Homo sapiens: one gene and its partners. The protein of the gene in region 1 interacts with the protein of each later gene in a biochemical or structural test. Each region holds a gene or a part of one and is shown in the gene's direction. Other genes may lie near its edges. The genes, in order: MIB1, EPB41L5, JAG1 and CEP131.

Region 1 (7,996 bases):
CTGAAAATTTAATAATAAAAGGACTGGCTGGGTGCGGTGGCTCATGCCTGTAATCCAAGCACTTTGGGAGGCTGAGACGGGTAGATCACTTGAGGTCAGGAGTTTGATACCAGCCTGGCCAACATCGTGAAACCCCTTCTCTACTAAAAATGCAAAAATTAGCCAGGCGTGGTGGCACGCACCTGTAGTCCCCAGCTACTCAGGAAGCTGAAGCAGGAGAATTGCTTGAACCCAGCAAGTAGAGGTTGCAGTGAGCCAGCATCATGCCACTGCATGCCAGCCTGGGTGAAGAGGGAGTGAGACACCATCTCCAAAATAAATGAATAAATAAAAGGACAAATAACTCTATAAAAATGGTCAAAAGATTTAAACATCCACTTTACTAAAGGAGATATACAGTTAGCAAATAGGCAAGTGAAAGCATTATTAGTGATTAACAAAATAGAAATTATAACCACAACCAGTTACTACAATTGCCCACTTAGAATGACTAAAATTAAAAGACCAATAAAACCAAGTATTGGTTAGGATGTGGAACAATTAGAATTTGTATACATTGCTGGTGTTTTTTTTTTAAAGCAGGCACTTTGAAAAACAAATTGGTGGTTTCTTACAAAGTTTGACATATATTTATCATGTGACTCAGCTATCCCACTTCTAGGTATGTACCCAAGAGAACATAGGACACCTTTCCAAGCAAATACTTGTACTAAATGTTTGTAGCAGCTATTATTAGCCCCATACTGGAAGCGAAGCCAAATGTTCAGGTAGTGCTGGGATAAACAAATTGTGCAAATTGTGGTGCACCTATGCAATGAATACTACTTAGTGAAATGTCAATGATGGAAAAGCTCAGGAAACTTAAAGAAAAATCCCCATTGTGCACATTTATGTGAGAAATAGACATGATAAAGAATTAAGCTGACACTCGGAAGGCTAAGGCAGGAGTATTCCTTAAGCCCAGGAGTTTGAGGCTGCAGTGAGCTATGTGCCACTGCACTCCAGCCTGGGTGACAGAGTGAGACCCTATCTCAAAAAAAAAAAAAAAAAAAAAAAAAAAGAAGAAAAGAAGCTGAGATCAGGTACCTTCTGACCACACTTCAAAGAAACATAATAAAAACAAATGAGAAATTCCCATCTTGAAGAATATGACATAACATTACCAAAGTTTCAGCTCTGCATACCCCGCCAGTATCAAGAGTTGTAACCAGAGGGCATGCATGGTTCTAAGACCTAAACGAAATGATCGGTTTATCTTTTGAATCTTTAGCTCTTTTCTTGATCTCATTTTAAAAAATTTTTAAATTATGCTAGACATTTGCTAGGCATTTTCATATGTTATTTTACTTAATCTTCACATTAGCCCTGTGAAATAGGTTTTAACTGTCACCATTTTGGAGCTGAGGAAGTAGATGATGGAGTTTTGACCTAGGTCCCCTGACTCCCAAGTGCACTTATTTTGCTCCTCAGTCTCTTTCTTCATTAGGGTTCAGCTGTTCTCATACGGTTCTTCAGCTGCCCTAGGTTCTTGGGTAGGATTTTCTGCTTACTTTAATGCATAATTTTATGTACGAATTAAGCATTACCTTCTCACCTAAAGCAAACTTTCTTTTCACAGAGTGAGGAAGAGCTCAAATATGCAGCAAGGGGAAGTGAACTTATTAGGTCATTAAAGTAAATCTAAATCCAGTATGAAGACTCATTATTATAACTTTTCAGGAAATATTTAGAGTTCTAAGGAGTTGATTATCTCCATTGCTTTATAGTGGAGATTGAAAGAGATCTGTCTTTGAACTCTACTGTGCTTTGTCCTTTTTAACTGTTCTTGGGTGGAATTACCATAATAAAAATGATTTTTAAAACTTGCTGTTTTACTTCAGAAAGTTTGTTGCCCCATCCATTTTTTTCTACTTTAACAGCAACTGTTACCATATGAGAATAACATTGCAGCAGCTGAAGGAGAAAGTAGCCAGCAGTGTTCGGTGTTATTTATTCCTTATGAGTAGTTATAGTTTTCATGTTCTTTACTGTTGTCAAATTTTAACCATTTAACATTTGTTCTTCTCGTTCAGGGTAATGCAAACCTGGATATCCAGAATGTGAACCAACAAACTGCCCTACACCTTGCTGTTGAACGACAGCATACCCAGATTGTTAGGGTAAAGTATTGACATACATTTTAGCTTATAATTACATTTTAACCATACAGATTTTTAGAACTTCCTGAAAATTGAAATGATACAGTGTTACATGTCTCAAGCTGGCATAGTTAGATATAAGTAAATCTAAATATCTAAATACAATGTGATCTGCCAAGACAGATGAGACCATATGCTTGAGATTGGCTTCTATATATAGATGGTACTTTTCTAAAGCTCTTCAGTAAGTATCGTAGAAGGGATTAGGAAAATTGTTAAAGCACCATAAGCAAAGTTTTAATAAACTTATATTTACTGCTTAAGTAATCTATTGAAATATGTCAACTGTGCATTTTTATTTAGGGGGTTGTAGTTTAGCAAACACTGTTCGTATTTATTGTTATTTGAAATTCCTCTTGATATCCTCCATGGCTTTCTTCATGACCATACATTTGGAGAAAATTGACCAAAAGAGAATGGAATCAATAATAACAGTTCCTTGTTTGTTTACATAATAGAAGAATTTTGAACATTATGATTTGGTCCTGGTGGAAGTGCTTAAAATATCTCAAGTCATACATCTAAAGTTGAAAAGAGAAATAAAGTCCTAAATATCCCTCCGTTATCATCATCTTAGAGTAGATGAATTAAGCAACATATTGATTCTCATATATTTTTATTTTCTCTAATTCAATATATTTAAATAACCAGAACACGTGACTCTTTGTAAGGAGCCACAGGGTTGGAGAAGAGTAGAAGGCAAAAGCATAAAAATGATTAGCTTTAGTGGTAACTTCTTCAGTAGGTCCAGGGTGTTCTCACCATTACTTTAGATATGTTGAAGTTTCTTATGGATGTGGACACTTTGCCAAAATGAGACATCTTTCTCTTTTAGCTTTTGGTCCGTGCAGGTGCCAAGCTTGATATTCAGGATAAGGATGGGGATACTCCTTTGCATGAAGCTCTAAGGCATCACACTTTGTCTCAGCTACGTCAGCTCCAAGATATGCAAGATGTGGGGAAGGTGGATGCTGCCTGGGAGCCATCCAAAAACACGGTGAGTAAAGATCATCTTTCATTCAGTACCAGTGGAAGAATCTTTTCATGCAAGATCTTATATTTACTGGTAATCTAACCTGTATTGGATAAAATATTTTATCAGAGCTATGTACTTAGAAACTTAGTTTATGAACTTAGTACTAGTCAGTACTAACTTATTGCTCCACATTTTTACCAAAAGTTGTTCAGTTCTGTTGTTGTTGTTGTTGTTATGTGGAGTCCCACTCTGTCACCCAGGCTGGAGTGCTTGGCTCACTGCAACCACCTGGGTTTAAGCCATTCTCTTGCCTCAACCTCCCAAGTAGCTGGGATTATAGGCGCCTGCACCACACCTAGCTAATTTTTGTATTTTTAGTAGAGACGGAGTTTCACCATGTTGGTCAGGCTGGTCTCGAACTCCTGACCTCAGGTGATCCACCCGCCTCGGTCTCCCACAGTGCTGGGATTACAGGCCTGAGCCACTGCGCCCAGCCATTCAGTTCTTTTTTAACATCAGCCATTCAAATAGATACGTAGTGGTATCTTATTGTGGTTTAATTTGCATTTTCCTAATGACTATTGATATTGAGCATCTTTTCATTTGTCTGTCACCATATGTATTTTATGAAGTGTCTGCTCAAATCTTTTGTTCATTATTTTGTTAGGCTGTTTGTTTTCTTACTACTGAGTTTTGAGAGTTCTTTATGTAATCGGAATACAAGTTCTTTATATGTGAATGCACATATTTTCTCCCAGTTGGTAGGAGATTTGTCTTTTCATTCTTTTTTTTTTTTGAGATGGAGTCTCGCTCTGTCGCCCAGGCTGGAGTGCAGTGGCACAATCTTGGCTCACTGCAACCTCCGCCTCCTGGGTTCAAGTAATTCTCCTGCCTCAGCCTCCCAAGTAGCTGGGACTACAGGTGCATGCCACCACGCCCAGCTAATTTTTTGTATTGTTTTTAGTGGAGACGGGGTTTCACCTTAGCCAGGGTGGTCTTGATCTCCTGACCTCGTGATCTGCCTGCCTCAGCCTCCCAAAGTGCTGGGATTACAGGCATGAGCCACCACACCCAGCCCTTTTCATTCTTCTAATAGTGATTTGGAAGAGTCAAATTTTTTAATTTTGAGGAAGTCTAATTTATCAAGTTTTTCTTTCATCATTTGTGTTTTTTGTGTGTGTTCTGTCTGAGATATCTTTGCCAAACCCAAGATCGCTAAGGTTTTCTTTTATGTTTTGTACTAGAAGTTTATAAAGTTTTAGCTGTTATGTTTAGGTCTATGATTCTTTTTGAGTTAATTTGTATATATTGTGTGACATATGGATCCAGGTTTATTTACTTGTGGATATCCAGTTGTTCCAGTGCCATTAGTTGAAAAGACTTTGTTTCTTTTCTTTTTTCTTTTTTTTGAGACAGAGTCTTGCACTGTTGCCTGGGCTGGAGTGCAATGGTGTGATCTTGGCACACTGCAACCTCTGCCTCCTGGGGTCACGCGATTCTCCTGCCTCAGCCTCCCAAGTAGCTGGCATTGCAGGTGCACACCACCACACCTGGCTAATTTTTTGTATTTTTAGTAGAGACAAGGTTTCACTATGTTGGCCAGACTGGTCCCGAACTCCTGACCTCATGATCCGTCTGCTTCAGCCTCCCAAAGTCCTGGGATTACAGGCATGAGCCACCACACTCGGCTGAAAAGACTTTCTTTTTCTACTGAATTGCCAGTATACTTTTATCCAAAATCAGTTAATTGTTTATGTGAAGGTCTCTTTCTGGATCATGTATTCTGTTCTGTTGGTCTATGTTTTTAGCTATTTGATACCAGCCCCCAGTCTTAATTACTGTCTACATAATACGTGTTGAAGTCAGGTAGTGTCAGTCCTCCAGTTTTCTTGTTTTTTCGAAGTTATTTGACTATTCTAAGTCCTTCACATTTCCATAAGAATTTTAAAATCATTTTTTAGAGGGTAAAAAGGTTCTGAGACCAAAGTGTTTGAGACCTCTGCCTTATTTATGACCATGGGTAAGTTCTCTTAGCTCGGTGTGCCTCTTTTTTTCTCATTTTAAAATGGGAAGAGGAGAGCACTTACCTCGATAAGGTTGTTGTAAAGATCATGGAAAGTGTGTAAAATAATACTTGATCCATTTTAGACACTCAATAAATGTTAACAGTTATTGTGACTATTTTCACATAAGATGATGAGAAGAATCTCAGATAATATTATCAGAACCTAATTTGTCTCATTCTCCGTATCTTGGCTCAATTCCTAGTCATTGGTTCTTTTCTCAGTTGTCTCTCCTGTCATTGTTTCAAGTTGGTTGCTAGCTGCTCCAGAGCCAAATTAATTAGGAAAGAGAGTACTGTTTCTTTAGTATCTCAATCAGAAGTTCCACTTTTGAGTTCTGTTGGGCTTAATTGACTTGATTTGTGTTATGTGTCCATCCCGGTTCTAGCCATATAGGTAAGGTAGAGGTATCTGACTGGTTTGGGCCATGTTTGGTCCACCTCTGCAGCTGGAGAATGTAGGTCCACCTCTACAACTGGAGAAAGCATACTTGTGTGTATGCTTGAGAAAACCAGGGGTAGAGTGGTGGGGAGGGAACATTAGGACTAGAACTCATAAGTGTCCACCACACACACATACATATATATGATGACAAGAATTGATGGCAGATTCCTAGAGGGAAAATCATGACTCTTTATTTTATTGCAGTTAATAATGGGACTTGGTACCCAGGGGGCAGAGAAGAAGAGTGCAGCATCTATTGCCTGTTTCTTGGCAGCCAATGGTGCTGACCTGAGCATTCGAAATAAGAAGGGTCAATCGCCACTTGATCTCTGTCCTGATCCGAATCTCTGCAAAGCACTGGCAAAGTGTCATAAGGAAAAAGTCAGGTTTGTATTATTTATTATCATAAAACTTAATATTCTGTACAGAAAATATCATGTGGTTTCGTAATGGAGGACGTGGCTACTTGAAAATGTCTTCATCTTTGCTCTTCCTGTATATTTGTGTTGACCCTTTCTTTCCTGAAATTTTTCTTCCTTGAAAATTTTTCTGCAGGCAGCATGTCTCTTATTTTATGCCATATTCCCCACATTATTGAGTGCAATGCTCTATACTTAATAAGTTCTGAGAAACTTTTCTAAACTAGTCTGATCTTCTAGTACTCCCATGTGTTAGAGGGATTTATGAGAAAAAGTCTTCTAGTAAAATTGCTGTTGTTAATGTTACATGTATTTTAAATTGTATTTATTTTTTATTGTATTATTATTATTTTTTAAAAATACGTCTTGCTGTGTTGCCCAGGTTGGGCTTAAACTCCTGGGCTCAAGCAATCCTCTTGCTTCATCCTCAGTAGCTGGGACTGTATGCATGTGCCACTGTGCCTGGCTCTATATTTAAAATTTAAATAGAATCTTCCTAAGACAGGCAACTTATACTCCATGAACAGGGTATATCTCACACAAACTGTAGCACCCTGCTCAGTGCCTGACAGGTGCACTCAGTATCAGTGGAGAATGAACAAATGAATGCACCAAGTCCTGGTGGAGTTTTCTCTAAAGATGATCATTTCACATTTGTCTCTTTTTCTGAAAGATATGTCAGTGATTTTAATTATTATTTATGACATAACTAATTTCCTTATGAGATTTTATAGATGTACAAAAAGGTACACATCTCATTGCTTTTTTAAATCTGAACAGTGCTGTGCAACTGTTGTTGCCCTTTGTACCTGGTTCTTGTCACTGAAATTTCAGTAGCTGTTCCTTAACCTTAGTGTTCCTTGCCTCTCTCATAATTTATGTGTAGTGATGAAATGTCATCTCTTTGGAATCTGTGCATAGAACTGTGTTATAGAGGAAATTAATATAGTGAGGTATATACATTTCTTTAAGTGTATTGTTAAGGAACATGAAATTCTATTACAAAAAGAGAATGCATCGGCCGGGCGTGGTGGCTCACACCTGTAATCTGAGCACTTTGGGAGGCCGAGGCAGGTGGATTGAGGTCAGGAGTTCAAGACCAGCCTGACTAACATGGTGAGACCCTGTCTCTACTAAAAATACAAAAACTAGCTGGGCGCATGCCTATAATCCCAGCTACTTGGGAGGCTGAGGCAGGAGAATTGCTTGAACCGGGAGGCGGAGGTTGCAGCAGTGAGCCGAGATCACACCACTGTACTCCAGCCTGGGCAACAAGAGCAAAATTCTGTCTCCAAAAAAAAAAATCTATAAATATAAAGATATAAGGCACTATAATTATTGCAGTAATAACTTTTAAACAATGGAGTCTAAGGTGGACCCTCTGTGTACGTGTTGTGTACGTGTTCGTGAGTTTCTGAAGATTGTGGTAGAAACAGGGCATCCCTTTTCTGTAGCTGTAGGTGGTCATATGTATTTCTGTTCCTTGTATCTGTGTTTACGGATGCAGTCTATCTTTCTGTAATATAATTTTATGTTCCTTAAGGATACACTTAAAAATGTCAAAACAGCAGCTGAAGTGTTAAATTTTCCAAAGTGCCCTATCTGTTGTGGACTCTGATGATGCTTTGTTCCGTCTTTAGTAAGGCAACTAACATGGGGGCTAGTGAGGATTTTTGTTTTATTCCTATGCCTTCCTCTGCTGGTTCTATATAGATACAACAGGTTCTGAGCAAAATTTTGTTTATGCTAAGTTTTTTTTTTAATTGCTGTTTTTTATTTCATTGTTAGAAGATTCACCCTTTTCCATTGGGTGAGTGAGTGTTCAGTTTGAAGTTTGAATTGTGTTAGAAGTATCTAAAGATGCAGAGACGCATATAAACACAAAAATTTAATGTT
Region 2 (7,996 bases), on another chromosome or scaffold:
AGGTAGTATTTCATTTAGTTTTGCATCTGGGTGTTCTTGCTAGGGACTCTCTGAGAGACTTGAGTTGAACACCTTTACGGTTGTCCCTTGATGCGTGAAGAACCTCAGGCAATTATCTTCCAATTTTTTGGGTGTTAAATCCCCTCATACCTCCAGCTTGTCCTGTGGGCAAATGTAACATGCTTCCTGGCCTAAGAATGCTTTAGGCAGAGAGATAAAGAAAGCTCCTTTTCTGCCTTTTTATAAGGTTGTCTTGAGAGTTAATTAATACTTGTAAAGCACTTAGAAGAATACTTAGGGCAGACCAGGTGGCTCACTCCTGTAATCCCCACCAAGGCAGGGGCTCACCTGAGGTCAGGAGTTCAAGACCAGCCTGGCCAACATGGTGAAAACCTGTCTCTACTAAAAATACTAAGATTAGCCAGGCATAGCATGGTGGCACGCACCTGTAATCCCAGCTACTCTGGAGGCTGAGGCAGGAGAATTGCTTGAACCTGGGAGGTGGAGGTTGTAGTGAGCCAAGATCACGCCACTGCACTCCAGCCTTTGTGACAGAGTGAGATTCTGTTTCCTTTCTTTTTCCTGCTATTATTTCTTCATTATTGTTTTAGTAAAGCTCTTGTAAAGTTATGTTTTACATCTATTTTATATGTTATATTTAAAGATTAGTCAATCGGAGTGTCACATTGTTTCGACATTCACAATTTATGGAAATACAGAGTTCAAATGTGTGGTAGGTGGTTTGGAATTTACAAGTAGGGAGATACAGTTGGAAAGCGGGCCATAAAGCGAGGTTAAAAAAATTAAGAAGTATTTCCTCTACCCAAAATTCCTGTTGAAAACAGAGTTGAGGCTGGTTGCAGTGGCTCACGTCTGAATTCCAACACTTTGGGAGACCAGGGTATGCGGATCACTTGAGCCCAGGAATTTGAGACCAGCCTGGGCAACGTAGCGAGATGCCGTCTCTACAAAGAATACAAAAATTAGCCTGGTGTGGTGTGGGAGTAAGGCTGAGGCAGGAGGATTACTGGAGCCTGGAAGTTCACGGCTGCAGTGAGCTGTGAACACACTACTGCAGTCCACCCTGTGTAATGGAGGGAGAACCTATCTCAAACAAACAAAAAGAGTTGAAAACCATCGTCAGTGTTTTTCTTTATGGCTGTTTTTTTTAAGCTTTATGGTCGTTCCTATGTCTAGTTCCTATGCTGCTGCTCTGCTTTAACACTGGAACAATTTTCCCTAGACCTAAAGAATCTCTTACACCATAATCGAGACCTATCAAATACATAGATTTCATTTTCCTTAACATTTTTAATGTCTGATATGTGCAACCTCAATTTTGTCTGAGATTTGCTTTTGAAATATGTACTGTGTTTTTCTGTTTCCTGTCTTTTGATGGGCATTGCAAGTTACGTTTACCGTCCTGTCAATTTTTAGTTCAGGAGTTAGATGGTTAAATGTATTTGAAATAAAAACAATTTTTTTCATATTTAGAGAACATTTGTTTGTAATTTGGCTTTTATTCTCTTATTATATTATAGGCCGAAGATAACCAGATTGGATTTTAAGAAGAATAAATTAACCTTGGTGGTTGTAGAAGATGATGATCAGGTAGGAATAAAATTATATTCTATTACTTGTGTAACAGTGACTGTATTATGTGGTAACTTATTTCTCTAAAAGAGGGAATGTACCTCATTGTTTTAAAGAGCCACAGAATGCAAACAGTATAATTAATGCTTTAAATAATTTCCTTACTTGGGTCATACCATGCTAAAAATATGGTTTTCTGCCCTTAGGATGAAAAATAATATAAAAGTGTCTTCTTGTTTCCTCATTGATCGTATATCTGAGGTGTATAAAAAATTACATTTAAGTGAGCCAGCCAGTCACCCAGGCTGGAGGGCAGTGGCACTGTCATAGCTCACTGTAACCTTCACCTTCTGGGCTCAAGTGATCCTCCTGCTCACTCAGCCTCCTGAGTAGCTGGGACTGCAGGCACATGCCACCACCACGCCTGGCTGATTTTTTCATTTATTTGTAGAGATGGGATCTCAGTATGTTGCCAAGGTTGCTCTCAAACTCTTGGCCTTAAGTAATCCTCCCATCTTAGCTTCTCAGCATGTTGAGATTACAGGAGTAAACCATTGTGGCAGACCAACTTTATCTCTTTATTAACTGATCAAAAAGATCTACCTAATAATAATAAAGCCTTTTGAATTAAAGATTACCTTTGTATCAGTTACAGTGTGGTTCTTAATTGATACATGCTTGGATGCAACTCACATGCATTGTTCTTAATGCAAGAAGCCAGATTTAAAAAATTATGTATTGAATGACTCCATTTATCTGATACTTTAGAAAAGGCAAGAAGAATTTTACTTTATGCAAATTAATAAATTTTAACATATGCATACAGATACAGATAAAAGCAGTTTGAGCAAAATGTTAACAGTTGTTGAGTCTAGACACTATGTATATGGGTATTCAGTTTTTCTGTATGTTTAAACATTTTTATAACGATGAAAATTTTTTTTTTGAATCCAGTTCTTTCATTTTCCTCTGCTCAGTAATTTGACTGCTATACTTTTCCTGTTTTAAACACACAATGGGATACTATGCAGCCATAAAAAAGAATGAGATCTTTTTTGCGGGACCATGGATGGAGCTGGAGGATATTATCCTTAGCAAAGTAATGCAAGAAGAGAAAACCAAATACTACATGCTCTTACTTACAAGTGGGAGCTAAATGATAAGAACTTATGAACACAAAGAAGGCAACAGCGGACACTGGGATCTACTTGAGTGGGGAGGGTGGGAAGAGGGAGAAGAGTAGAAAAGATAACTAACTGAAAGATAACTGGACTTAATACCTGGGTGATGAAATAACATGTGCAATAAACCACCATGACACGTGTTTACCTATGTAACAAACCTTCTCTTGTACCCCAAACCCAAAATAAAAGTTAAAAAATAAAAAAGAGTGCTGCTCTGAACACTAAGGTGTATGTATATTTAGCTTTTGTAGGTACTGCCAAACCTCTTTCCAAAGTATTTAATACGAGTTTATACTCCCACCAGCAATGTTATTGGTGTTTTTTTTCTTTTTTGCTAATGTTTGGAATTCTGTCTTTTTCATTGTAGCCATTCTTGTGGAGTAGAATGTGGTTTTAGTTTGTGTTCCCCTAATGACAACTCTGGTTTAGTACTTATCTGTGTAGTTATTGGATATGTGGATATCTTCTTTATGAAATGCCTACTCAAATCTTTTGCTTATTTTTCTATTAGGTCATGTGCCTTTTAGTCATTGAAAAAATTCTTTGTATGTTCTGGATATTAATTCTCTGTCAGATATTAGTGTTGCAAGTATCGTCTACTCCTTGTTTTGCCCTTTTTCCACCACTTTTATTTTTAGATGACATATAATAATTGTACATATTTATTGCATACAGAGTGATATTTTGATACATGTATACAATGTGTAATTATCAAATCAGGGTAATTAGCGTATCCATCTTTACTGTCTTAATAGTGTCTTTAAATAACCTGAAAAGTACCAAAAATTATAAAATAGATAACCATCTTATTAATGATCTAGATTTAACATTTTTTACATTTTGCTTCAGTTCTCTTTTAGAGAAAGATAAATACAATTATGTGCATGAATAAATAATACCAACTAAAGTCTAACCCCCTGACTACCTACCCCCTTTCTTCTGGTACCTGGTCACCAATTTTGGAGGGTATTATTCTCATATATATTTTGTAACTTTTTCCAAATATTAACTCATGTTAGAATTGTTTTAAAAACTTGCATAATTATATATATTTGCAGCTTGCCTGTTTTATCTAAACGTGTACCTATGTAGATCTAACATATATATATGCTATTGTGTAATATGAATAAACAATAGCACATTCATTCATTCATCATTTATTCATTTATCCCTCTGCATAATTTTTTACATATGCCTCTATTTACTTGACCATTTCTCTTTTTTTGGACGTTTAGGGTTTGTACCAAGTTTTACTATTATAAATGAGACTGAGGAAATATACATCTTCATATATAACTTTTGATGTTTAGGAAATAATTTTCCCCAGAGAGGCAGTATAACTTAGTTGTTAGAGGTGTATGTAGATTCTGGAGCAAGACTAATGTTTAAGTTCATTTCCGGTTTTCTTTCTTAATAGCTTTGTGATTTTGGGCTTAATTTCTTTGAGCCTCAGTTTCCTTATCTATGAAATGGGGCTAATGATAGTATCTACTCATTGAGATAATTTATGTGAAATCCTTAGAAAAATTTCTATATGAATGTTAACTATTATAATTAGACTCATGGCAGTGTGATTACTATGACAAAAATGTGAGCATTTTTAGGGCTGTTGATGCATACTGCCAGATCTGATATGATTCCTCAAATTATAATTATACAGTTATCCCAAATAATGGCAGATAAAATCTCATTTTATGTCTCTCTCACAAATGAGATCATGTAAGTAGAGGGGAATAACTCCTAGGAATAATTTTGTATTGGCTGATAAAATGAGCAACTTGATTTCAGCTCTGCCCTTATTATGTTGATACTATAAAGAGTGTCTGAATTTCAGGGAGCACACTAGATCCTTTATTCATGGATGTGTTTGTATCTCAGAAATAGGAGATAGGACTGTTTGAATTAGTAATCATCCTTTTATATATACTTTTCTTTTTCAGGGCAAAGAACAGGAACATACATTTGTCTTTAGACTGGATCATCCAAAAGCATGCAAACATTTATGGAAATGTGCTGTGGAGCATCATGCTTTCTTCCGCCTTCGAGGCCCCGTCCAAAAGAGTTCTCATCGATCAGGATTTATTCGACTAGGATCACGATTTAGATATAGGTTAATTTTAATTGCTGTTTTATCTGTCTTTCATTGCATACAGGCCAAAAAATTTAGGCCAATCTTCTCTTTTTTACAGATATGGTAACTAAGGTATAGAGGAATAAGGTGGTTTGCCAGAGTCTTCCATTGGCCAAAATAAAATAGAAAAAGTGGTATTGTTATTGGTTATAATTTCTTGAATAGATGCGTAAACAGTAATTGTATAATGGCTTTTATATCCCTCTGGATGTTTACTTTATATATTAACCCACTCCCAGTTTATCTATTTAACAAGAGTTTTATGGACTCTCCACCCACCACTGGATACCATATAGAAAAGGGTTTCTTGCACTGAATGGGATATTAGTCTGGATAACATTTGTGGTCCTTTATAAACCTGAAGGTCATTATTCTCATGACTCCTTGTTTGTTGTCATGAGTTAGAAATGTTTTGGTTTACTGCAGAGTGGATTATTGGTTGTGAGTTTTCTGCATGCCATGGAAATCAGTTAAAGAAGGAATGGATTGTACCAATAATGTGGCCAGTTGATTGTGTGGAGTTAATAGAAGTAGTACTGTAGTCTACTTATATTAAAAGTAAGGAGGCATTTTCTAAACAGAATTTAAATGGAAATCAAGGAGAATAAGACAGTAGTCTTAAAAAACATTTCTGGAAAATTATACTGAAAAGTGAATATCACAATTAGAAAAAGTAACTGAAAATATTCTTTTAATTACACACTTTGCACTGAGGAATGTAGATGGGAAAGAGAGGGAGTTTCCATAAAAGGACAGATATTTCAAACTTATTTAATGTGTACTTAGGTGATATGCATGCATATGAGAAAAATAAAACCAACATAATCTGTTGCATATTTCACAAAAGCCGAAAGAATGATATGGTAAAGAGAGAGATCGAGACTATTAGTAGCTGTTCCTGTGCGATGAAGTTTAGGATGATTCTTTTAAGGAGAACCTGAATGTGGACTGTCTTATTTGTGTGTGTTTATTACTGTAGACCTAAAATTTCCCTTACTTCTGTTATGCCTCATTTAGTGGGAAAACAGAGTATCAGACCACAAAAACCAATAAAGCAAGAAGATCAACATCCTTTGAAAGAAGGCCCAGCAAACGATATTCTAGACGAACTCTACAAATGAAAGGTGAAGTGCAACCCTCTTTCAAAGGATTATTTTTCCTTGGCAATTAATTATGTGCTGGTGTTGTTTCCATAAGAGGAAGTTACCTGAATCTCCTCCTCAGGTCTGTTCCAGTCAACTAAAGTACTTTTCTGGCAGAATCAATTTCATGGGATACACAGAGAAAAATTGCCTGTATTGTTAGCAGAGATTAAACTTTATGTTAATCCCAATTCAAATGATAGTCTGAGGTTATGTTCAGTTTTTGTATACAAAACTGTTTCTGTAGAGCAACATATTCTCTCCCTTTTTGACTTACAGATCTCATTCTAAAACATCCCTTAATCCCCTTAGGAATTTTTAAAAACATTTTTATTTATTTATTTATTTATTTATTTATTTATTTATTTTGAGATAGTCTCACTCTGTTGCTCAGGTTGGAGTGCAGTGGCATGATCTCAGCTCACTGCAACCTCCACCTCCCAGATTCAAGTGATTCTCATGTCTCAGCCACCTGAGTAGCTGGGATTACAGGCATGCGCCACCACTCCTGACTCATTTTTGTATTTTTAGTAGAGATGGGGTTTTGCCATGTTGGCTGGGCTGGTCTTGAACTCCTGACCTCAAGTGATCCACCCACCTTGGCCTCCCGAATCCTAAAAGGATTACAGGCATGCCTGGCCAAAACATTGTCTTGTGATGAATTTTTTTTAAGTAAAATTTATTTCATATTGTATTATAATATTAAGGATTGTATTAAATACCATTTTAAAATATATTCATCATTGTTATACATAGACATTTCCTAATTCATAATTGTTACTTGCTGATTAAGATCAGTTATATAAGAAAAAGCACTATTTACCTTGACAAATAAATTAAACCTTGTGTTTGGTTTTAAACTGAATTTGCATTAAAATGAATTTGCATTAAAATGCAAATTTAATTTTAAGTATTTCCACTGTCAGAGTCATCACCAGTTGTCCAAAAACAGCTGTAATGATCTGATGTTTGGCAGTATTGACTTTTTTATAAAAATGATTTATACTCATAAGTTTTGGTGTGGCTGTAAATTAAATATACAGCTATAAATGAATTGTGATGATTTTAAAACCCTAAGTTTCCTCTTGGTTTCCACTGATGATAATTCATAATCAGTCAGCTCACTCTGGAGGCTTACAGATTGGTTCTGTTTAAAAGGAGGAGATATATATGCATTGTATTGCTTTATTTGAAAAATGAAAATAATTGCCATTGTTGCCTCTATGGTGTGAATCCCAAAACACTTTGGTGAATTGAAGGTTTTTAGATTTATGGTTGGGGCCAAATGTGGTGGCTCACACCTTTAATCCCAGCACTTTGGGAGGCCAAGGTGGGAGGATTGCTTGAGCCCAAAAGCTCAACTCTTAGGAGTTTGAGACCAGCCTGGGCAACAGTAGTGAGACCCACCCCTATCTCTACAAAATCATGAAAGACCCTTTCTCAAAGAAATAAATTTATGGTTGTGAAACATGGCTTGTAAAGCAATTAGTTAAAGTTTTGCTTTGAATAGTGCAGCAGTTTATCATGTAAGATGAAACTAATGAGGTGTTATCTTTTTTCTTCTGTTAGCATGTGCTACAAAACCTGAAGAACTTAGGTAAGTAATGTTTTGCAACTTAGGAATTGGTATAGAATTTGGGATTTATGTAGTTGCTATCATTAAACAAATATTTAAGACCTATCAAAATGTCAAGTTGTCCGTAAAGCACCAGGGATATGTCAGGGAATAAATGAACATGTAATGCCAGATAAAAGTGACATGATGAAAAATTAAAGCAGTTTAAGGAAGTAAAGAATGGGGTCGAGGCAGATGAGCCATTCATAAAGAGAATGACATACCTTTGTTATTGGCAAGTGGCTGAGGATCTTAAGATAAATTATGATCCTTATACATAAGAAGCACAAAGGAGAAAGGTTGATTTGCAAATAGGCAATTTTCTTCCTGG
Region 3 (7,996 bases), on another chromosome or scaffold:
CATTATAAAGTGCCCTCTGCTGTGGGTGAGATAAGACAGTTATCAAAAACTGCCATGAAAAGGGGTTTATAAAAAGAAAAATTAAAACCAACGCTGTCTGTGAAGCTCTCTTGAGGTCCAAGGGCTGTTTCTGTTGTGGGATTTCATTTTTACCAAGAGTATTTATCTTGTTTGTTAATCCCCTATTAGGGAGAACTTTAAGCTAAAGAGTCTGGCTGCGTTTAAATCTGGCTGGCCCAAGCTGACTGTGAATACTCAAACTGCCCTTGAACGTGTGTTTGGAGTTTAGGGGGAAGGGGCCTGCAGGTGGTTCCACCCTCCTGCCGGAGGATCTGTCTGGAGCCCCTCGCTTTTCACAAGACCATAAAAGGAATCTTATTAGTGATGTGGAAAAGCAGCAGCCTGGCTGAGGCTCATTTTGGAGAGTAGGGTCAGAGGGATGGCTAACATGAAAACAAGGAGGCTTGCTCCCTCGCTGGCCAAGGAAAAGTGACCTAGAAAAGTGCGTCTGTCCGCTTTTGACACTTGGTCAGAGTCCTCAATGGAAAACGAGCGGAAATAGTGTGGGAGGGTAGGAGAGGCGATTGATTTGCATTTGCTGGTGCTCTTCTGTGGTTTCAGGCCCCACGGGTCACCAACCATGAAATAGACTCTCGGCTTTTCTCGAATGGGGGAAGACCGATGGGGCACCACTGAAAATGTGGTTCTTTTGAAGTTGGGACAAACGCATGTATCACTCATAAACAAGTCTCCACCCTGATGCCCCAGAAAGGCCTGCTGTGAAACATAAGATTTAATTCTCAAGAGAAATTGGAGTTTAGGTGTATTTGTTTTTCTGTATGTGGTTGGAGAAACGGCACAGTCCGTAACTTTCAAGAATGATTCCAGGCTGAGTAGAAACGTAACTGAAACACTTAAGTAGCTGAGCGAGTATTTAACTAGAGGGCACAGCTTCATTTAGTTTGGCAATTAACTATGTCTTTTAAAACTGATTTCCTTGAATGGGAAATAAATGAACTTAGTACAGAATTCAAGAGATAGCAAGAAAAGGATATATGGTTAAAAACAAAACAAAACTCCAAACCACCTTGGGCTCCCAACCCCTAGCAGGCACAATTACCATTTGCATGAGTCCTCCCAAATTTGCTGACGCTGGGTATCAGCAAAGGGTGCAGGGGTAGGTCAGTGTAGAAGGTCATGTAGTTCATGCTTTTTGTTTGGAATTATGACCCCTATCCAAGCAACTGTTCATGTTCTAGAGAGGACGAGGAGGAAACGATTTGGTCAGATATGAAATACAGTCCATGTTCTGGTGTGCATGTGAAAGGCTTTGTAGAGGTGGCCCTTCCTGTCATATATCATATCTGAGTATGTCCCACGTGGTGTCCCCTGCCCCGGCTCTGGTCTTGGGGTAGTTTTTCACCACTGGCTTCTAATTCTCATACTGTTGCTGCTCTAAGGGGCTTAACTTGCAGCAACTATCTGGATTAATGATTCTCAAATTGGGGGACCAAGTGATAAGAACCATTATTGTGGGAAGTAATTGGGCTTAACAGGAAATAATTTAGGAATTACCACTTATAAATCACTGAAACGGTTAATCTGTACCTCCCAAAATTAGTGCTAAATCCCAGTAGTGCCTGCTTATTAAAAATACATTAGTGTAATTACCACTACTCATCTCCAAAAGCTTTTTGGGAACTTCAGAACCCCAGTTAGCTGTATTGCTGCATCGGTGGCCCCAGAGTGAAATGAATCTAGAGAAACGTTAGGGGAAGAAATTGGGGTATCTGGCTTATTAGCCTCATATTTAAATTCCATTGATCCTATTAAAAGACTTGCTGAGATCAACTTTTTTTTTTTTTTTTTTTTTTTTTTTTTTTTTTTTTTTTTGGAAAATCCAATGAAACGTGATTCTTCTGTGTGAGGGATGCCAGCTTTGGCCCCCTTCATGCTTCAGGCCTGAATGACCAATTGCCACGATGCTAATCACAGAATGTAATTGACAGGCCCTTACTTTTATGCCTTTTGCTGTCTTTTCCAGTCCCTGAGCTTCTGTAGATATGGTGTGGGCACATGGAGGGCTTAAGGATGGGGTTCTGATTTGACCTGCCTCCTTTCTGCAGCCAGGATTTGCATCCTGCCCGTGTAGTCAGCATGTATACAAAGAAAGAGCATGTGTGTACGTATGTGCTCAGAGCAAGGGACTTTCTGCATGTGGAGAAAACGCCTTTTGCCCTAAGAAGTCTACCTCAAACCAAAGGGATGAAGTGATGTATCTGTGTTGCAACACTGGGCTTGGGGGAAAGTGAAGCTGTGCTTGCTTTGAAAGAGCTGTGCTAAGTATCTGCAGAATAGCTGCTCCAAAAATGGAATCTTTATTCCAGGTACTTGGTTTCTAATTTTTTTTTCTCTTGCAGGTGTAACCTTCTGTGTTTTCTTTCTCCTTGTTGTCTTGTTTCTTAGCAACTTATTCAAACCTCCAGTACTTATAGGAATTTGCAACCCACCAGTTCCACACCCGTAATTCTACAGGGACTTAAGATGTTTTTAGAAAACGGTGAAACTTTGGCGTGGAGGCTCTTGGGGGAGTTCAGTGGGTTAAAAGGAGAGTCAGCAGCAACTTACAGGCATGCAACCTCCCAGAAAATCAGCAATCTAAGTGCTGCTCAAAATCTTCACACCAAATAGTGGTGCCTTTGGGGACCTTTTAGATAGAAGACGTGGAAAGTTTAGCATGGAGAAAAAAGTTACTTAAAAAAAAAAAAACAGTGTCAAGGTAACAAGGAGCCTTCACAGTTCCTGATCTGAAAACAGGAATGTGAACCAGAGGCCTTGGCTGGATTCATATCACCCACTGGCCCCATTGTAGAAGGGCCAGAAGTTGGTCCCAATGTCCGGCTTTCAAGGTTAGTGACAATGTAAGAATGCATGATCTCTGGATGTGCATACAATTAGCGTTGTAATCCATAAATGCAAATACTCCTGCAAATTCTTCCATGGTAAACTTCTGTAAGGCATGTTGCTCTTCCACCTACCCCCATCCTTCAAGCCTAGGATCTAGGCTGCTGAGAGAAGTGACTCTTGGCTTCAGCTTTTAAATATATATATATCTCTCAAAACTTAATCTTTTCTTCCAACTGTTGGAAGATACATTGGGATGAATGGAAAGTGGTGATTCTAAAATGGTGGTGGAAATGGAGGAGGGTCCTGGGTTCAGAAAAATCCCACCTTTACTTTGGTGCATGGCACTGGGTGGCTGTGTTGTGACTTCTTTGCTGATTTCTGATTACCGCATGGACCACAGCAGCCCTGTGACTGCTGTTTTTTTTTTTTTTTTTTTTTTTTATGGTGCCAGTGACATCTACCATTGGTGCAGTGCGTGTGCTGGGAAGAAATTCCGCAAGGTGGCTCCCAGTAGTTAAAGGAGTACATAAATAGTCAAACATGCAGAGTCCTCTACCAGCTCAACCCAGTTTTTATGCACTTTTGGTAAATAAACAGAAAGGCTTCTTGTTCAGGCTTGCTCTGTGTGAACCAGACCGTTGTGCTTGGCTGGCTTCTTGGTATTCTATCTATTAACCTCGCCACCCTTTTGTAACTGGTGCATTTAATTATCAGTGGGATGCTTTTCAAACAGGTAAGGGTAATGATGGGAAAGGGGGTGGGGATGTCTCATTGAGAGTCACAAATCTGGATATGAGCTTTGGGGCCCCTTGGTGAGCCTTTGAGTGGGCTTTGATGAGAAAATCACCCTTTGTAACCAGATCGGACTCTATTGACATGTCAAGCCCTACAGACTTGATTGCTTTCTGTGCCTGAAGTCTTAGCCTAGATGCTATAGGATAGTTGTCCTTTCTTATCTCACTTTCCCAAAACCCACTCGCATTGTGTGCATGAGTACGTGTGCATGCGCCACACATGGACTCCCTGCAACCTTTTCTGCTTAATATGTTTTGTGACTGGAATATTTTATACTCTGGCCACCCAGACACAGGCAGGACAATAGAGTTGGCCGAATTGACTGAAATGAGGATTATGGAGAATAATAGGGCCTCTCCAAAAATAATGCTAACACAGGACAAGCGACAGGAAGCAACAGTTGAGTCAGCAGAGCTCAGGGCCCCTGACGAACCCTGGGAGCCGACTGACTGTGCACAATGGCCGCGTTGGCACGTCGGGCATTCCCAGGATGTGCGTGCCGCCGGCGGGCCTGCCTGTCGCAGCAGCCTGGGGTTTTGGACGCCGCACGCGTGCCGTTTGGATGGCGGTTTATTTGTGTCCGTCAGCTTGGCAGGAGGGGAGGCAGCCGCTTCTCAGGGCTTGGTTTGGCTGTCACTGTTGCCAGGAAAAGGAAGCTCCCGGCTGCCAACACAATTACCTTTGTTTCTTACATCCCCCCTTCTTAATGTGGCAATTAAGTGCTTACCGCTCTGCCCAGTGCCAAGGTAACCGCCATGGAGTGGGACAGGGCAGAGAACACAACCTTGGCACAGCAGCCTAAGTGTGGAGGGCGGGAGGAGGTGCAGGGGCCCCAGCCTTGCTGGGAACCTGGTGGCCCTTGGATGCCTTGGGGCTTTGATGCCAGGACTCTCCTCTAGGTAGAATTCCACAGAAATCTTCCAAAAAGCAATTCCGAAGGCTGACCATTCCTCTTTGATGCCACACCAGAATGGGAACCAGCTGCCAGGTTTCCAGATTTCCTTGGGCTTGGAGCTGGGAAGGGGCTGAAGTGACTCACTTTGCAAATCCAGACTAAAGATCTGTTTGCTACCCCTCCTTCCTGTGTGGCCTTCACAGTACTGTTCTGGAAAACATAAGGAAAGATGAAAGCCAGGTGACTCTTCGGCAGAGTCTTAGTTCTGTAGTCTGAAATCAAGAAAAACCCAGGTATTTGCTTTTGTTGTTGTTGTTTTGCTGTATAAACTTAAGTTTGAACACTTGCCTTTCCAAGCCCTCCTGGGATGGAGGACTCCGCCTCTACTGGGGGTCAGAGTTGCAGTGGCTGCTTGTATGTGACTTCGGCATAGTGGATTTGCTGCTCTGTGGCCTGGTCCCTGCTTTGATGTGGGGTGCATGATCTGGGATCTCAGTGCCTGGGTGTATGTTCAGGGATGTACAGAGGTCAAGTGTGGGCCTGGGAAAAATTAAAGTTCTCTAGCAACTAATAATCATTGTTAAATTATCTTGATTGCTGATCTATAGTGTGGGGATGGAGTGGGAGGTTGAGTGCCTCCTAATAGGAACCTTGGAGGGAATCCTTTTTCTCTGTAGGGCTGGGCAGGAGGAATCCTCCTGCCCCAGGAGACCCTAATCCCCTCCCTGAAACAGACAGGAAAAAAAGTCCAGGCTTTGTTGCCGTCACTGTAGCTCCCTGCCCTCACCCTGTCTCTGCCTCTGAGAAAGAAGGGCAGTTCATGGAAAATCACAGAGCCAGGCACGTAGGGCTGTGTGCAATTCTTTTCTCTCCAGGTGGGGTGATGTCGGTCAGCAACTTCTGAGGTTTTCCCAGTTCTGGCGAGGATGAGCCTGGTAGACTGCTTGGTCGTCCAAGTTCTTGTGCAAGACCTAAGGATGCTTTCCTCTTTGAGTATTAAACTGAGTTAGTACTGCCATGCCAGCTCAGTCCCGGCACCTTCCCTTGCAGTGGGGTTTGTGGGTATTATGTGTTTAGCGCTTGTGCAAGTCTGTCAAAACTCCTGGTATCAATGCATTTAATCAGAGGATTAATTACAACAATACTGTTGAAGTGGAGGACGTGGGCCTCAACGTGACCAGCAAATGAAGGGCTTAATTATACAGAATCAGCCACACATCTGGCCTCATTTTGACTGTGCTCTTACCTCAAATCAGTAGAGAAATATAATTTCTTGCTGCTCTTAGGGAAGAGTCCTGTAATTTGCAGGAAGTCCTAAGAAACTTAAAGAGGCAGTAAATAAGGTATAACTTTCGCTAATAAAATAGTAACAACAGCAATGAATTTGGACCTGTGGCCACTAACAGGAGAGGGCTGGGTATGTGCCCTGGCTTGCCCGGTTTTGCTTGCTTTTCTGAGCATTTTCCCACAGTTATCAGTGAACGAAATGGAATCCTACTCTGCTTTGAGTATGAAACATATTTCGGCTGAATTCCAAGGCAGGGTCTATCACAAGATATTTTTATATTCAGAGATGACCTGCTGTGTCACTCTGAGAGCGCTAAGCTGGCCTTGAGTTATGAATGAAACTCCCTTTTACCCTCCCTTTTTCTCTTTTTCCTTTATCTTATAGGTGCTTTCTCTTCTCTTGGCAGCAGTGTGCTTCTGGTGGCACAGCACGGTATTATTTAATCTATACACGCTTCTATTTCCTATGGCTTGGTTTCTGACACAGCAAAGCAGGGATTCATAACCTAGTTCATGTTCCTTGTCTACCCCACCTGCCTTGAGTACATTTCTTCAGTGCCAAGATAGCAGAAGCTTCATTTAAACGCTGGTGTTTTGTGAGACTGACCTTACTGTAAATTACGAAGGAAAATTTTAGAAAAGGAGGGAATTTGCTAATAGCTTAGGTTTGGCTGGGGGTGGGGAGGTGGAATTCTGAGATAAGCTTGGAAGATAAAAGGTGCCTTCAGTTTAACAGCTGGCATCTTGCCAGTATCCAGGGAATTTGTTTAGTTAGTAGACTCTGATTATTCTTGGAATGTTAGATCTTATTAACAGATAAGTTCATCAATAAATATAACCCATGGGTGTGCGGTTGTTTCTCCCTTTGTACTTTCTTCCCTGGGATCTGCCCCCAACTCCACCGCCCAAGTGAGGTTGACTTCTTTGTCTTGCAGAGTCACTTTGCATCTACCCCCTCCTGTTTCCTAGAGTTACCCGATACTTGTGGGAGCCAGGATGGTCTCACATAGACAGAGTTTTCAAAGGGGTTCTAAAAAGGAAAAGGGGGCCTCCCTAGAGACTGCCTCACCAGGGCCCAAAGTGTAACCTTAGCAATACCCCCTCGGTACAAATACCTGGTTAGGTTAGCTTAGAATAAATTCTTTGTGTGTGTGTGTGTGTGTGTGTGTGTGTGTGTGTGTGTTTCCTCATGCACTAGGGTCAGGGTCTGGAAAGTTTTGGGAAACTATATGCTAAATACTCTCATATCATATAGTGAGGTGGCATTTCCTGATCTCAACTTTGAGCTGCCTGCATGCATGTTGACTCCAGTGCGTCCCTGCCAGGTGAAAGGAGTCATTTGTCAACCTGGGAAGAGTGCTGACAAAGGAAGGGGAGTTGGTTTGGATTTAAACATCCAGGAACTCAATGCAACAACCAACAGAATTTTTATTTTGGCATTATGGTTTTGTTTGGTGGGGTATTCTGGGAGGCCAAGAATGTACGAGATTTTGGAAAGTCGACCCTGTTTCTGAATTGCTAAATTGTTTGTTTGTCTTGCAGAGGTCCTATACGTTGCTTGTGGAGGCGTGGGATTCCAGTAATGACACCGTTCGTAAGTATCGCTTCTGTGGACTTTTCTCTAAACACACGTGGAAGTGTGGGGCTTGGCCAACCAGTTGGAGCTGGATCTGTCTCCTTAGTACTTAGCATTTCTGCCACCTCTTGCCTTCTGTTCTCCCCTGTACCCCAGGGTGAACCTTCAGTGGAATGTATTCCTTAACTTTTCTAGGATTTTTGCTTGGAATATTAAGTGGCCAGAACAGAATCCCAGTTAACTCATTCCCTGATTATGAAACCTAGATTATCTTCGGGATAGAGATCTTAATGGTTTTACAACTTTAAAACCTTGTAGTCTGCTAAAGGATCAAAGTAGTGACTTTTTAAAAGTCCATTTAAACTTTAAGTGAGTGTTTAATCTCTCATCAGAAAGATAAAGCCATAAAGGTGGTGCTGGGCTCTAGAGACCGACCTTGAATTTCACTTGGTGGGCAGGTGAGCTTCTAGTCTCTCCGGGTTTCCCACACTGCTCCACAAACCTTTCATTGAAGCGCAATTCCAGAGCTTCACAGC
Region 4 (7,996 bases), on another chromosome or scaffold:
GTGTGGGGTAGATGGCAGAACCTGGCTCACATCGACAATGGCCTGTGGCCCAGGCTCCCTCTGGGGTGCTGCTGGCTTATTCCCACCCACGGGCCTTGCCCTCGCCACCCACCTGTCCATCATCCAGGGCCCTCCTGCCCTGGCATACACTGACATTGGGCTCAGAACAGCTCCCTCATGTTCCTGTCGAGGAGCCTGCCACCAGCCAGAGGGGTGCATAGGTTGTGACAGGCCTTCCCAGGAAGTTTGGTGGCCAGTGGACCCAGCTGAGGCTGGGCTGGAGATGGTGGGTGCAGGGGACTGTAGTTCCCCCACGGCATCTCATTGCAGCTCTTGCTTCCCCGCTCAGGACCTGCCTTGTCCACCATGAAAGGCACCCGGGCCATCGGCAGCGTCCCGGAGCGCAGCCCAGCAGGTGTGGACCTGAGTCTGACAGGTCTCCCTCCGCCTGTGTCCCGGCGTCCTGGCAGTGCCGCCACCACCAAGCCCATCGTCCGCTCTGTCTCCGTGGTCACAGGCAGCGAGCAGAAGAGGAAGGTGCTGGTGAGTACTGTGGCCTAGGAGTCCGGGCCCCTGCCTCCTGGAGGGCTGTTGTTCAGTTGGCATCTGACCCCTGGGTCCAGCTCCACAGGTGAACAAGTGCCTCACATCTGGACATGCTGGATCCTCGTGGCTGTTCCAGGAGGCAGGTAGGACTTGAGTCTTACAGGCGTGGGTGCTGAATCACTAGAAAGTCAAGCCAGAGCTTGGATTCTTTCAGCAACAGCCCCAGGCCTCCTGTGCCACCGCCCTTTGGATTTGTTTGAATCCTCAGGAAATGGGGTTGGCTGGGCTCGGTGGCTCACGCCTGTAATCTCAGCACTTTGGGAGGCCGAGGCAGGCGGGTCATCTGAGGTCAGCAGTTCAAGACCAGCCTGACCAACATGGTGAAACTCCGTCTCTACTAAAGATACAAAAAAAAATTAGCCGGGCATGGTGGTGCATGCCTGTAATCCTAGCTACTCGGGAGGCTGAGGCAGGAGATTTGCTCGAACCCAGGAGGCAGAGGTTGCGGTGAGCCGAGATCGTGCCGTTGCACTCCAGCCTGGCGACAGAGTGAGATGCCATCTCAAAAAAAAAAAAAAAAGAAAGAAATGGGGTTGACCTGTGGGGAGGGGTGATGAGCTCCTGGTGGCCTTGGAGAAACCTAGACGGGTGTGTGGGTGTGTGGGCAGCAGGACAGCCGTGGGAGCTTCGGGGTGAGAGCTGCCTTTCCTGCCCACCTCTGGGAGTAGGGAGGAGGGTGGGTGGTTCCCAGATGGGGGCTGTGAAAGGCAGGCCGGGCCTGCTGCACCCTGAGTTGGTGTCTGCCAGGCCCAGTCTTTGGGGCAAGGGAGGAATCGAGCCGCTCTGTGGGGGTTGGGGCAGAGCCTGACCAGAGTCTGGCCTGAGCTTCCGAATAGCAAGGGCCTGGGGGCCTTGGCTTCCATGCGGCAGCCGGTCTGGGGCTCCCTGCCTGAGGTCCGTGCCAGGCAACATAGCAGGGCAGAGAGAAGGGGTCTGGAGGGCAGTTGAGGCTTCCCACAGGAACCCCTGGCAGGCCCAGGCCAGGGTTCCACTGTGAATAAAAGGCTTGGACCTCCCCCTTCTCCTTGAAAAAGTTATTCCTGTGTCTGCCCTAGAAGCACCCCCAGGTGGGCAGGGTGTGGCCCGCCAGACGGCTAGCCGAGTTCCGGGGTAAGGGCAGCCGGGCCAGTAGCGGACCCTTGGACCAAGCAGGTTCCCAAAGCCTGGGCCAGCAGGGCGGGGACCCGGGATGTCCTGATGTGTCATTGTGGCCGGCAGGTTGTCTAAAGATGTGGTACGCCTCTAGGCATTTACAGACGTAAGCTGTGAAAATAAAAATATGCTGCACTGTTTTAGCAGAGGGGTAACCAGCTTGGGCTAGAGCCGTCTCTGAGCCTGCTGCCTCTCCTGTCCGCAGCCCTGCTCCTGCGTCACTGACCCCCTCGCCCACCTGCCTTGGCCCCTCCCGCTGTTTCTAAAGCCCTAGGTTCATGGCACATGGGGCGGGGAAGACGCACTCGAAATCGCAGATCTGGGCTGGGCGAGGTGGCTCACGCCCGTGATCCCAGCACTTTGGGAGGTTGAGGCGGGTGGATCACCTGAGGTCAGGAGTTCAATACCAGCCTGGCCAACATAGTGAAACCCTGCCTCTACTGAAAATGCAAAAATTAGCCGGGCGTGGTGGCGCGCACCCTTAATCCCAGCTACTCAGGAGGCTGAGACAGGAGAGTTGCTTGAACCCGGGCGGAGGAGGCTGCAGTGAGCCGAGATCATGCCACTGTACTCCAGCCTGGGCGAAAGAGCAAGACTCTGTCTCAAAAAAAGAAAGAAAGAAAGAAAGAGGGAGGGGGAGGGGGAGGGAGAGGGAGAGGGAGAAGGAGAAAGAAAGAAATTGCAGCTCTCTTGTTGTGTGGAGACTGTTGTAAAAGTTTCCGGGCTTTCTAGTAGATGGTCTTTCGGCGGCATGGCCAGGCTCTATCCGCGGCCGACCCAGGCACCTAACCACACTCCCAGCCTTTCTGCTGGGAAATGTTCTGTTGCTGAGTAGAGGTTCAAAGCCACAGCGAGCGCTACTCATATCGATCCCTCCTTTCCTCGGCTGGTACCATTGCCCGCTCCCGCAGTGTTGAGTGGCGACTGCTAACAGTCCCCTCGTTCATGGAATGTTCCAGCTGTTCACTTCAATTCTTTGAGGCCCTCGCTCGATCCGAGACGGCCCCACCCCTGCATGCCTGTCTGCCTTCTGTTGTGCCCATGGTGGGAGCTCGGGAACTGCTGGTGGAAGAGGAACCCCCGCCAGTGTGTGACGTGACCTCAGGGGTTTCTGTTGTGCCCGGTCCCCATCCTCTCGGCCACCTGCCCTGCTACCACTCAGTCTCATCGGGATTCCTGGAGAGCATTTGTTTTGGCCAGGCATGGCTTCACACCTGTACAAGGCGGCACGTGATTCTCTTCCTCCTGGTGTTTGTGGGTGGGGTGGGGTGCTGTCCCCTGGCTCGGAGACCTTCTCGGTGGCCATTGGCCTGGGGTTTCCACTCTACCCCTTGTCTCTAAAGATCTTCCTGCGTCCACGGCCTGCTGTCCCGGGATTCCCCATCCAGGATGTAACTGCAGTTCCTGCTGGTCTTCTGGCTCAAGAGATGTCGGTGCCAGACTGTAGAGGGTCCCTCTTCCTTGCCCCAGCTGTGTGCCCACCTGATCCTCTAGCCCCCTAGATCATTATTCACTCTGGTTCCCTTCCCCTTAAAGAAAAGAGGTCTTTAAATCCCAAGAGCACAAGCTCACTGGGGAACAGACATCACTGTGCATATGTGTCATGGCCATGGGGGCCACCTGCCCCTCCCTGGGCGATGTTGCCTCCTTCTTGCAGGTGGAGTTTAGGGTTTTTAGTCCATGACTTGATTTACCATCTGAGCATGAGTGGTGCCTTTCCACCGTGGTGTCCGTCAGTGAGTGGCAGCCCCTTCATCCCTCCCCTGACATCCCTTATCTTCCTCTTGGAGGCTGCGAAACTGACCCCAGGAAAATGGAGACAGGATGAAGGGCACCCATAATCCCATGGCCCTGATGCAATGACTGGTGCCATTTTGGGGGATGATTTCAAAATTCCTACCATGTGTTTTGAATAGGCCATTCACACCCACCATTTGGGAAAAGGGGGCTCATTGAGCAGTGAGCCTGTCCTGCCCGACCTTGCGGGCCTCTCCTAGGCGGCCACTGTTCTGTTTCTCCTGCACCCACACTTACTCTGGGCACACAGGCATCAGTGATGCTGGAGATGTGTTGGAACAAGTGCCGTATCCGTCAGCTGCGTGGGGCTCCTGCATTCTCTTTTCTTTTTCTTTTTAAGACGGGGTCTTGCTCTGTTGCCCAGGCTGGAGTGCAGTGGAGAAACCACAGCTTACTGCAGCCTCCACCTCCCGGACACAAGTGATCCTCTTACCTCAGCATCCTGAGTAGCATGGATTACAGGTGCTCACCACCCTGCCCAGCTAATTTTTAATTTTTTTTTTCTTTTGAGACAGACTTTTGCTCTTTTTGCCCAGGCTGGAGTGCATTTGTGAGATCTCGGCTCACTGCAGCCTCTGCCTCCCGGGTTCAAGGGATTCTCCTGCCTCTGCCTCCCAAGAAGCTGGGATTACAGGCATGCACCACCATGCCCGGCTAATTTTGTATTTTTAGTAGCGACGGGGTTTCGCCATGTTGGTCAGGCTGGTCTTGAACTCTTGACCTCAGGTGATCCTCCTGCCTCAGCCTCCCGAAGTGCTGGGATTACAGGTGTGAGCCACCACACCCAGCCTACTAATTTTTAATTTTTTTGTAGGGACAGGGGTCTCACTAGGTTGCTGGTCCTTAACTCCTGGGCTGAAGCGATCCTCCCACCTCGGCCTCCCAAAGTGCTGGGATTACGGGTGTGGGCCGCTGCACCTGACCCTGCTCCCGCTTTCCTTACATTGTTTTGTAGCAGCTGACAATAGTTCATCAGATGATGCACCAGAACTTCACCCAGTGCTCCTCTGGATTTTCCTTATCATAGTACCAAGAGTGGCACAGCAAATACCCTGTGTCTTTGCCATTTTGCATACATGTAAATACGCCTGTAGAATAAATCCTAAAGGATAACTACTGGGTCAGAGCATAAGTCCATTTAAAATTTTGAAAGGGGGGCCAGGTGCGGTGGCCCGTGCCTGTAATCCCAGCACTTTGGGACGCCGAGGTGGGCAGATTGCTTGAGGTCAGGAGTTCGAGACCAGCCTGGCCAACACGGTGAAACCTCGTCTCTACTAAAAATAGAAAAAATAGCTGGACGTGGTGGCAGGCACCTGTAATGCCAGCTACACAGGAAGCTAAGGCAGGAGAACTGATTTAACCCGGAAGCTGGAGGTTGCAGTGAGCCAAGATCGCACCACCACACTCTAGCCTGGGTGACAGCGAGACTCCATTTCAAAAAAAATTAAATAAATAAAAAAATTTGAAAGGGGGCCGGGAGTGGTGGCCAATATCTGTAATCCCAGCACTTTGCGTGGCTGCGGTGGGAGGATCACTTGAGGCCAGGAGTTTGAGACCAGCCTGGGCAACATAGTGAGACCCCTGTCTCTACAAAAAAATTAAAAAATTAGCCGAGTGTGGTGGTGCATGCCTGTAGTCCCAGCTACATGGGAGGCTGGGGCAGGAGGATGGCTTGAACCCAGAAAGTTTGAGGCTGCAGTGAGCTATGATCATGCCACTGCTCTCCAGCCTGGGCAACAGAGTGAGACTCTATCTTTTAAAATTAAAATTAAAACTAAATTGTAAATTTTTGGCCAGGCGCGGTGGCTCATGCCTGTAATCCCAGCACTTTGGGAGGTTGAGGCAAGCAGATCACGAGGCCAGGAGATTGAGACCATCCTGGCTAACACGGTGAAACCCCATCTCTACTAAAAATACAAAAAAAAAAATTAGCCGGGCGTGGTGGCAGGCACCTGTAGTCGCGGCTACTCGGGAGGCTGAGGCAGGAGAATGGCGTGAACCCAGGAGGCGGAACTTGCAGTGAGCCGAGATCGCGCCACTGCACTCCACCCTGGGCGACAGAGCGAGATTCCGTCTCAAAAAAAATTTTTTTTTTTGATAGGCATTGCCAAGTTGCTGTCCGTAAAGATCATTGCCCTAAGTCACACTCGCATCACAGGGTGCCACGGGGCCTGCTCCCTCGTGCTCTGGTTGGCACACGTGCAGCACAGTTTTGGCCTTTACAGGATCCATATGTAACAAAAGATATCTGACTGTACTACCTTTTAGTTTACTTTTTACTTTTTATTTTATTTTTTTCTTTTTCTTTTTTGAGATGAAGTTTCACTCCTGTCACCTAGGCTGGAGTGCAATGGTGTGATTTCACCTCACCGCAATCTCTGTCTCCTGGGTTCAAGTGATTCTCCTGCCTCAGCCTCCCGAGTAGCTGGGATTACAGGCGCCTGCCACCATGCCGGGCTAAGTTTTGTATTTTTAGTAGAGACAGGATTTCACCATGTTGGCCAGGCTGGTCTCAAACTACTGACCTCAAGTGAATCCGCCCGCCTTGGCCTCCCAAAGTGCTGGGCTTACAGGCGTGAGCCTCCGGCGTGACTGTACGATTTTTAAAAATAAACCTTTTATGTTAGTATAGTTTTAAATTTATAGAAAAATTGGAAAGTGCAGGGTGTTCCCCTGTACCGCACCCAGTCTCTGCTATTTGAATATCTTACATTATGATGGGACGTGTACAATTAACAAGTCATTATTGGTAAATCACTGACTAAAGTCCACACTTGATTTGTATTTTTGCAGTTTTTCTTTTCTGTCCCAGGATCCCACATGATTTTTGGGCTGTGGGTCTCAGGCTTGTTTGGGCTGTGAGTTTCTCAGACTCTCCTTGTTTTTGATGACCTTCGAGTTTTGGGGAGAGCTGGTCAGGGATTTTACAGAATGGCCCCCTGTTGGCCCTTGCCTGATATTTTTCTCGTGATCAGACTGGGTGGTGGATGGGTTCTAGGAGGAAGGCCACAGAGGTAAAGTACTCTTCTCACCCCATCCTGTCTGGGGTCCACACTGTCCATGTGACCTCTCACTGGTGATGCTGCTGGCCTTGGTCCCCTGGCCAAGGTGGAGGGTCAGGCTTCTCCACTGTGAGGTCGCCCATCCCCTGTGCTCTCTGGAAGGAAGTCGCTTTGTTCAGCCCACATGGAAGGGGTGGGGAGTTTTGCTCCCCCTCCTTTAGAGAAGAGCATCTATAGAAGTTATTTGGAATTCTTCTACACAGGAGATTTGTCTGTTCACCCTCATTTATAATTTTTTTTTTTTTTTGAGACAGTGTCTCACGCTGTCGCCCAGGCTGCAGTGCAGTGGCATAATCTTGGCTCACTGCAATCTCCGCCTCCCGGGTTCAAGCGATTTTCCTATCTCAGCCTCCTGAGTAGCTAGAACTACAGGCGTGTGCCACCACACCTGACTAATTTTTGTATTTCAGTAGAGATGGGGTTTCACCATGTTGGCCAGGCTGGTCTCGAACTCCTGACCTCAAGTGATCCTCCTGCCTTGGCTTCCCAAAGTGCTGGGATTACAGGCATGAGCCACTGCACCTGGCCCCACTTATTAATTTTTTCAATCATTTATTATAATGGACTCGTGGATATTTATTTTACACTTCAAGTTATAATTCAATGCTAGTTTGCTTATTTTGTTGCTCTCATTGTCACAGCTTTGGCCACTGGGAACTTTCAGGTGGCTCCTGGGTCCCTGTGTCATTGCCCATCACTTTGTCTTCTGAGCACGTCCTTATTTCTGGCCCTATAAACTGCTCCAGCCTCATCTTGTCTATTTCCTCCTCCAGTCCTAGAATCAGCCATTTCTTCAAGAAGCCCCGGTTCTTTTTCTTGGAGAGTGGTCTCAGAGACCAAGGTCTGGGAGCTGGGTGTGCTTGTCCCTACTGGGCTGTTTCTGGTCTTCTCAGCCAACAGAGCAAGGAAGTATGTAGTGTACGCCAGTTGGTGTGTAATATACACACTGTCTATAGATAGTAACCTACCTAGTAACCATTGGTGTTGTGCGTCCTACTGATGTCTCTGCCGCTAGTGGCACCTCTCGCCCCCCCGACGCTTGCTGATTGTAACCTCCCCTCCTGCAGTGAGGATGCGGCCCCATCGTCTGCTGTCCCTGGTTTAGCTCCTGTGTGTGTGTAAGGTGTGTAAGGTGGTGTCACAGTGGATAACCCAAACCCCATGGGAAGAACACCACCAATGCTGTGCTATGCTCTGGGACAGCCCCTCTGCACGGGCCCCACTCCTGCCCACGGCTCCTCGGGACAGCCCCTCTGCACAGGCCCCACTCCTGCCCAGGGCTATTAGGAAGAGCCCCTCTGCCTTTAGGCTGACAGGCCCCACTCCTGCCCGGGGCTACTCGGAACAGTCCCTCTGCACGGGCCCCACTCCTGTCCAGG

What was found.
Region 2: the proteins of MIB1 (region 1) and EPB41L5 form a complex in vitro, tested with the Homo sapiens proteins (one study listed by BioGRID).
Region 3: the proteins of MIB1 (region 1) and JAG1 are reported together in a solved structure, tested with the Homo sapiens proteins (one study listed by BioGRID).
Region 4: the proteins of MIB1 (region 1) and CEP131 form a complex in vitro, tested with the Homo sapiens proteins (one study listed by BioGRID).

What each region holds. Positions count from the first base shown.
Region 1 is NC_000018.10:21,841,059-21,849,054, forward strand, and holds part of MIB1 (E3 ubiquitin-protein ligase MIB1), read left to right. Parts: intron 1-2,072; coding exon 2,073-2,159; intron 2,160-3,033; coding exon 3,034-3,195; intron 3,196-5,885; coding exon 5,886-6,067; intron 6,068-7,996. UniProt on the Homo sapiens protein: E3 ubiquitin-protein ligase that mediates ubiquitination of Delta receptors, which act as ligands of Notch proteins.
Region 2 is NC_000002.12:120,085,630-120,093,625, forward strand, and holds part of EPB41L5 (band 4.1-like protein 5), read left to right. Parts: intron 1-1,541; coding exon 1,542-1,611; intron 1,612-4,717; coding exon 4,718-4,887; intron 4,888-5,925; coding exon 5,926-6,032; intron 6,033-7,619; coding exon 7,620-7,647; intron 7,648-7,996. UniProt on the Homo sapiens protein: Plays a role in the formation and organization of tight junctions during the establishment of polarity in epithelial cells.
Region 3 is NC_000020.11:10,663,445-10,671,440, reverse strand, and holds part of JAG1 (protein jagged-1 precursor), read left to right. Parts: intron 1-7,426; coding exon 7,427-7,478; intron 7,479-7,996. UniProt on the Homo sapiens protein: Ligand for multiple Notch receptors and involved in the mediation of Notch signaling. May be involved in cell-fate decisions during hematopoiesis. Seems to be involved in early and late stages of mammalian cardiovascular development.
Region 4 is NC_000017.11:81,212,427-81,220,422, reverse strand, and holds part of CEP131 (centrosomal protein of 131 kDa), read left to right. Parts: intron 1-349; 5' UTR 350-366; coding exon 367-543; intron 544-7,996. UniProt on the Homo sapiens protein: Component of centriolar satellites contributing to the building of a complex and dynamic network required to regulate cilia/flagellum formation.